2 linked regions of the Homo sapiens genome follow. The protein of the gene in region 2 purifies or fractionates together with the protein of the main gene of each other region. This does not show direct contact. Each region holds a gene or a part of one and is shown on either strand. Other genes may lie near its edges.

The links.
Region 1: the proteins of SYTL2 (region 2) and SEPTIN9 fractionate together in Homo sapiens (co-fractionation; one large-scale study listed by BioGRID). This does not show direct contact.

Annotation. Positions count from the first base shown.
Region 1 is NC_000017.11:77,287,840-77,291,655, reverse strand, and holds part of SEPTIN9 (septin-9), read right to left. Parts: intron 3,722-3,816; exon of another isoform or gene 3,446-3,721; intron 1-3,445.
Region 2 is NC_000011.10:85,723,830-85,727,645, forward strand, and holds part of SYTL2 (synaptotagmin-like protein 2), read right to left. Parts: coding exon 203-3,816; intron 1-202.

The sequences.
Region 1 (3,816 bases), on a different chromosome or scaffold from region 2:
AAAAACAAAAACAAAAATTTTTTGAGACGGAGTTTCACTCTCTTTGCCCAGGCTGGAGTGCCGTGGCACGATCTCAGCTCACTGCAACCCCCGCCTCCTAGATTCAAGCAATTCTCCTGCCTCAGCCTCCTGAGTAGCTGGGATTACAGGCATGTGCCACCATGCCCAGCTAATTTTGTAGTTTTAGTAGAGACAGGGTTTCTCCATGTTGGTCAGGCTGGTCTCGAACTCCCGACCTCCTTGGCCTCCCAAAGTGCTAGGATTACAGGCATGAGCCACCGCGCCCGGCTGCTACAAAAATTTTTTAAAAATTAGCCAGGCATGCCAGGCGCGGTGGCTCCCACCTGTAATCCCAGCACTTTGGGAGGCCAAGGCAGGTGGATCACGAGGTCAGGAGTTTGAGACCAGCCTGACCAACATGGTGAAACCCCGTCCCTACTAAAAATACAAAAATTAGCCAGGTGTGGCGGCACATGCCTGTAATCGCAGCTATTCAGGAGGCTGAGGCAGGAGAATTGCTTTAATCCAGGAGCCGGGGGTTGCAGTGAGCCGAGATTGCACCACGGCACTCCAGCCTGGGCAACAGAGTAAGACTCTGTCTCAAAAAAAAAAAAAAAAAAAAAATTAGCCAGGCATGCAGCGCACACCTGTAGTCCCAGCTACTCAGGAGGCTGAGAAGGGAGGACCAATTGAAACTGGGAGGTCGAGACTGGGAGGTCATGATCACGCCACTGCACTCCAACCTGGGCAACACAGCAAGACCCTGTTTAATAATAATAATAATAAATAATGCAAGTGGGTATAAGAATTTATTTATTTATTTATTTATTTATTTATTTATGAGACAGGGTCTCACTCTGTCGCCCAGGCTGGAGTGCACTGGCGCAATCTCGGCTCACTGCAAGCTCCGCCTTCCGGGTTCATGCCATTCTCCTGCCTCAGCCTCCCGAGTAGCTGGGACTACAGGCGCCCGCCACTGCACCCAGCTAATTTTTTGTATTTTTAGTAGAGACGGGGTTTCACCATGGTCTCGATCTTCTGACCTTGTGATCTGCCCGCCTCGGCCTCTCAAAGTGCTGGGATTACAGGTGTGAGCCACCGCTCCCGGCCCTAAGAATTTATTTTATCCCAGCACTTTGGAGGCTGAGGCGAGTGGATCACGAGGTCAGAAGATTGAGACCATCCTGGCTAACATGGTGAAACCCCGCCTCTACTAAAAAAATACAAAAAATTAGCCGGGCGTGGGGGCGGGTGCCTGTAGTCCCAGCTATGCGGGATGCTGAGGCAGGAGAATGGTGTGAACCCGGGAGGCGGAGCTTGCAGTGAGCGGAGATCGCGCCACTGCACTCCAGCCTGGGCAACAGAGCGAGACTCCATCTCAAAAAAAAAAAAAAAAGAATTTATTTTAAGACAGCAAGCTCTAGGGTTGAAGCCAGTCTCCACCTAGCCCCAGGCCCAAAGCTATAAGCATGGCTACTGTAACATCTTTACTCAGGACACCACCCTTCAGGGGCCCAGACCCACACCATCAAGGAGGAGCGTCCACACCAGCAGCTGGGGAGAGGGTGGTTCCCTACAAGATGCAATGTCCACTCTGAAGAGCCATTATAGTGATAATCATGAAATCCATGCCTGAGATCTAATTTCAAGTGAAAAGAACAGAATTCAACATTCATTCTATGGGGAGTATAAAACTCTGAAAATATACGCCTTTCATAATTAAATCAAACCCTATGTCATGTTCCTGAGGAGACAAGCACTGAATGGAACACAGAAGAAATGCTACAGCCAATGATTGTTGAAGTTTTCCTTTCAATTTCCTGTTCATGTTGTTTGGCAATAAGTAATACAGAAAACTGACAACAAAAAGCAAAAGAGAAAGAAAAGATACAGTGTACAGTTTAGATTGCTTTCCTTAAAAAATTAAATAATAATAATAAAAAGCATAGGCCGGGTGCGGTGGCTCACGCCTGTAATCCCAGCACTTTGGGAGGCCAAGGCGGGCGGATCACCTGAGGTCGGGAGTTCGAGACCAGCCTGACCAACATGGGGACACCCCGTCTGTACTAAAAATACAAAATTAGCCGGGCATGGTGACGCAGGCCTGTAATCCCAGCTACTTGGGAGGCTGAGGCAAGAGAATCGCTTGAACCCGGGAGGTGGAGGTTGCAGTGAGCTGAGATCGCGCCTTTGCACTCCAGCCTGGGCAACAAGAGCGAAACTCCATCTCAAAAAAAAAAAAAAAAAAGCATAAATGCAAGCTGGGCGCGGTAGCTCATGCCTGTAATCCCAGCACTTTGGGAGGCCGGGGCAGGTGGATCACCTGAGGTCAGGAGTTTGAAACCAACCCGGCCAACATGGCGAAACCCCATCTCTACTAAAAATACAAAAATTAGCCAGGCATGGTGGCGCGTGCCTGTAATCCCAGCTATTCAGGAGGCTGAGGCAGGAGAATTGCTTGAACCCAGGAGGCAGAGGTTGCAGTGAGCCAAGATTGAGCCACCACACTCCAGCCTGGGTGACAGAGTGAGACTCCGTCTCAAAAACCAAACCAAACCAAACCAAACAAAACAAAAAAAAGAAGCGGCATAATACAAAGTCCCGGCAGTTAAAGCGTTAACCCCCAGCTACCAGGAAGGCTCTGCTATCCAATGACTCATCGCCCCAGCCAAGGTCAGCCACACCTTGGGTCTCTGATGCTGGAGGCAACATGATGCCAACACTGGCGAGAAATCCACCACCTCCTCCTCCCCGCCCCTCGGTGCCGGCCTCTGTGTGCACTTGCAGCTCTTCCACTACCGGTGCCTCCATGGTGTCTACGCCACCGGCTCACCTCCCAGCAATAACCCGACAGCCCGACACCTCTGTAGACCCTGTGGCTACAGAGCTAAAGTTCCCTGTTATTAGTGGGTTTTGCAGACAACCCTCCAAATCCCTCTGGGTTGAGTTAGTCAAGTCCTTAACAAGCTGGAAGATGACAGGGGTTGGATGTAACCCACTTCCAACTGGCTTGGGTTACATGGACATTATTCCTCTTCTGGGATCTGATTTGGGATGGAAACAGGAGCCATAGTTCATGGGAAGGCTGTGAAAGGAAGCCCCGGCCCCAGGGTGCGGATCAGGTTGATCTGCGGAACAAGGCCCCAGGGGCGGCCCACCCGCCTGCTCTGCCCAGCCCTTCCTGGTAACCACACTCACCCGGGGCCCATCTCAAACCTGGCAGGCAATGCTGCTGCTCCCATCTCAGCCGCTGCCCCAACACGCCTCGCCTGGCCAGGACAGGTGCCCAGGCATGGCATTCAGGGACATCCTCGGCTTCCGGGGCCCAACCCCTGGTTCCCAGGTGCAGCGCTGGGAAAAGCAGAGGGCCCCGGCCATGGCGCAGGCCTCGTCACAGGTCATTTAAGCAGCCTGGGAGGAGCCGGAAAGAGAGCAATGCACCCACCTGGACAGAGACTGAAGCCACATCCCCATTGAGAAAAGATGACACTCCTGCCTGGACCCCTTCTCTGAAACCCCAGGCCGGGGTGGGGTAGGAGTCAGCGAGAGAGTCCAGCGCTCCAAAGGGGACTTTCTGGCCCTCCGTGCCCCCTAACCCAGCACTTCTGGGGACCCACACACTCAGGGCAGAGTGGCCATCCAGGGTTCCTCTCACCCAGACACAAAGGCCACTGAAGGCCCCGGGCCAACACCGCTCTGAGGATGACCAGCGACTTGAGTTCCTGCCAGAGACAGCAGGCAGCCTGGGTCTAAGGGCCGCCCAGTGACTTGAAGCTGGGATCATCTTACATTCCCTGCGCCACTCCTGTTTCCTGT
Region 2 (3,816 bases):
TCATTTAAGAATTATGTAATGCATTTGATTAAAAAATATAAATAATTTTTTTAATTAAGAAAGTCTCAGGAACACAGAAGTGGTAAGAAGAATTTAACATCATTTAAGAATATCAAATTAATCCCAATTAAAAAAAATCATCCTTTACATCAGCATTCCATAAAGCAGACTCACTGTGAGTTAAAAAATTTTAAATGCTCACTGGAAGGATTTCTCCAGCTCTCTGCATTAGAACTGGTGTTTCCATCTGAAAAATCAGACTCAGAGAAACCTTCTTTTTCTTCCTCTTTCTCTTGTTTCATATATGGCGATGCTAGAGTCAATTCAACTTTACTTGTTTTTGTAGAGTTTTCTTTGTTCATCAGGAGAGGAATGGGTTGCCTATTTCTGGACACACTAATTGCTTCAGAAGCCTCTCCAAAGCCAGGTTCCTGAAGAGTCCCTTGTCCCCCTGCAACCCCACTTTCACTGTCCCTGTCCTCTGGGGGGGTTACAGTTTTAATGGTCCCTATTTCATGAGCCACATAAAGTTGTGGGGTTCTAGGGATCTCAACTCCACTTCTGGAACCACAAAAATCTACCAATAAATCAGTCACAAGTGCGTCTCCTCCCAACATTTTATCACATTGGTTGACTTGAGATTCCAAACCATTACTTTTATCCTTCATTTCAGAGGTCTGTGAGGCTGCCCTGTAAAAATGGGGCACTGTCCCCAAGAACCTGGTCTGCTCTGACTGTGAGGACTCCTTCTCGTGAGTTTCTTCTCTCACTGACACCTGGGGCTGATAAGGAGGAGCTTCAGTTATTTCTTTAAGAAGTTTCTCAAAACCAGCATCAAAAGCACTCTCAGTTATTAACGGAGCCTCGGCCTTTTCTACTGTTTCTTTTAATTCCTCAGGATGGCATTCAGAAGTGGCTCGCCTGGGCTCCTCTGTACTACCTATTAACTTTGATGGAGAAAGATTCCCTGTATCACTTTCATATTTTGAGGGGAAGGTTTCAGTTTCTTCCTTCAGTAGTTTTTCTAAGCCAGCACTGAATTCGAGGAACTCTGATTTGGGTTGAACAATTGTTTCCCTCACAATTTCTTCCACTTCCTGAGGGAGGCCTTTGCCATATTGAGCAACAATGGAAGCAAATGAGCTAAGCGTCTGGTCTGATGGAGACATTTGGGCAGCTAAATAAGATCCAACTTCATGAGTTTTATCAGGAACTACATTGGAGGAATAAAAATCCTTCCTGTCTGGAACTATGGTGTCCATCGTAGCCCATGGTGATATCACTCCTGGAGGATTTAGGGGGCTACATACTGGCTGTACTGCTTCAGGAAATTCTGGGTTCACTTCTCCAGGACCTACTTCCCTTCCAGCTGGATAACTTAACCATACTTCTCCACACAGCTTCTGTAATGCAGCACTTACATCATTCAATACAGGTCTGGGTGGAAGAATGACTTTCTCTACAGTCTCCGAAATTTCCGTTTGAGAAGGGTGTACCCTAGCCTGGGGAACAAGATGAGCATCCTGGGGAAAAAGCATATCTTGGGGAGGGCTGGCCACATCCCCAAAAGAACCCTTTCTGGAAAGCTGGGAAGTTGGATCCAATGGATGAGAATCTTCTGCAGCCATCTGAATCAAATTCTGTGTGCTTAGCTGGCACTCACCACTTTCAGCTTTCTTGAGGAGAGCTGTATTTCCAAAAGTTTCATCTCTCACTGGAAAAGGAGCTAGTATTTCTCTCTTATCAGCTGAAGTATTGTGACTCTGTTCTATCCCTTTTCCAAAAAATCTCCCCTCTTCCAGCTTAGAGTTGGTTCCAGTGATAACAGGCGCCAACTTGGCTTGCAAGGGAGAGGGTGAAGTTCCAGTTGCTTCCTTCAGGAGTTTGTCTAGACTAGCAGTCAAAGAGTTCCGTTTAACCTTTGGATGAACTACTGTTTTGTCAACATGCTCATTAATGATCTTCTCAGGTCCTTTGACTTCTTCCTCAGTATCAGCAAAATCTGTTTTTTGAGGCCATGTCCTATTTTCAGAAACACTTGGTTCAAGCACTTGTTTTCCATGAACTTTTCCACCAGAGGGTTGAATTGCTGGTGTTGAGGTTTCTGAAAGCAGTTTCTGCAAGCTGTCATTAAAAGTGTCTTTGCAGTCTTTAGACAAAACATTGGTTTTTATTATGGATTCTTGAATCTCTTGTTCTGAGTAATCCTTTTCTTCCTTAAACACTGGAGTAACAATCCCTTCCGTATTCTTTTCCACATTTTCCTTTGATGACTCATTTCCTGGCAACTGATAAGTATACTTTCTAAGTGGACTCAAAGGAAATGTGATTTCATCTGGTAGCACCTGGAGTATGCCCTTTGAATTTAATTTCTCCATTTCCTCTCTTGCCATAACTTTTTTTGGGCTTAGAAGCACCTCTGCTTCATGGGTATTTTTACCTGATAATTTAATGTCGCTGAATTCCTTGTGTTTCTGCCTATTAAAAGGTGCAGAATTTTTTTGGCTTGTGGTGGTAATATTCTTGTCATTATCCTTACTGTTTGAATTAGCTTCTAAGTCCCAAAACTTTCTCAAATTCTCAAACTGAGAGGGATTATAGACCTGTTCTGCATTGGGTTCATCCATTCTTTCTTTTAGGGACATAACTTTAAAGTTGGCATTTGATTCACGAACTAGAGGTCTGTCTTTCTCCAATGGAGCATGTCGTTCACTCCCGACATTTGAGGGAGGTTGCAGTGCTGGTAAAGTAATGTTTCTTCTAGAAGGCAAACTGTCTGCCACTTGTGATCTTTTTATAGGCTCATTTTTCTTATTCTGAAACAGAGACACTTTATCTGATTGCTCAGCTGAAAGATAGTATCTGGATGGACCTGCTATTTGTGGCTTGGTCTCTTTAGATTTATTTGAGGAATAAGAATTGGAGAGCTGGGATGCTTGATCATCCTCATCTAAGACCACTCGTTTGGGAATGGCCTGATTATATTCACTCTGGTCTGTAGATAAACTGTCCATGGATGATACACCCTGTGACTTCTTCACAGGCTGATATGCTTTAGCAGAAGGTTGTTCCTGGCTACATGAAGATGTGGGTTTTTCATGAGTTATCTTAGCACCAGCTTTCTCTCCTTCCCAAAAGGATATTCTGTCACTCACTCTTTTGTATTTCTCTCTCTGCACTTGGTTCTTGGGAACCTCACCAGCTTCTTGCTGGAATTGGACCTCAGGCTTCTTCCAAGGAGAGCCATTGTTGGCAACCCCAGGTGTTGACTTAATATTCTCTGGCTCTAAGGAGGCTTTCAGGATATAGGTATTTCCTACTTTGCTCTTTCTCTCTGCATTCATGTTATCTTTCAAACCTGGTTCTTTGACAACTGTTGAAGAGTCAAAATTCACTTCTGAGTGTCCTCTATTTTCTTCATGAGCATGAAACTTGGGTTCTTCTTCACCCAAGTTGCCAATATTATTAGTGTTGCATGGAACTTGGTTTTCTGCATCAGATTCCTTGAGAACACTGTAGGAATAGTTACTATTTGAAGGAGATGCCCCATTCCCTTTTCCTGGGCTTTTTGAATCTTGGCTATAGTCCATATTTTTACTCCCTTGACTTGGGGTGCCATAGCTTTCAAATGGTTGCAATATACCTGGGCCTTCCTTTGGGGTGCCTTTTTGGGACAAATTCATGAATTTGGATTTGATATTCACATTATTATCTTGGCAACTTTCAGAAACCAGCATATCTCCCTCTGCTTGGAATGGTGAGTCAGATCTCACAGGCTTCAATTCAATTTTGCTGGGTGATAGGGTCTTTGAGCCA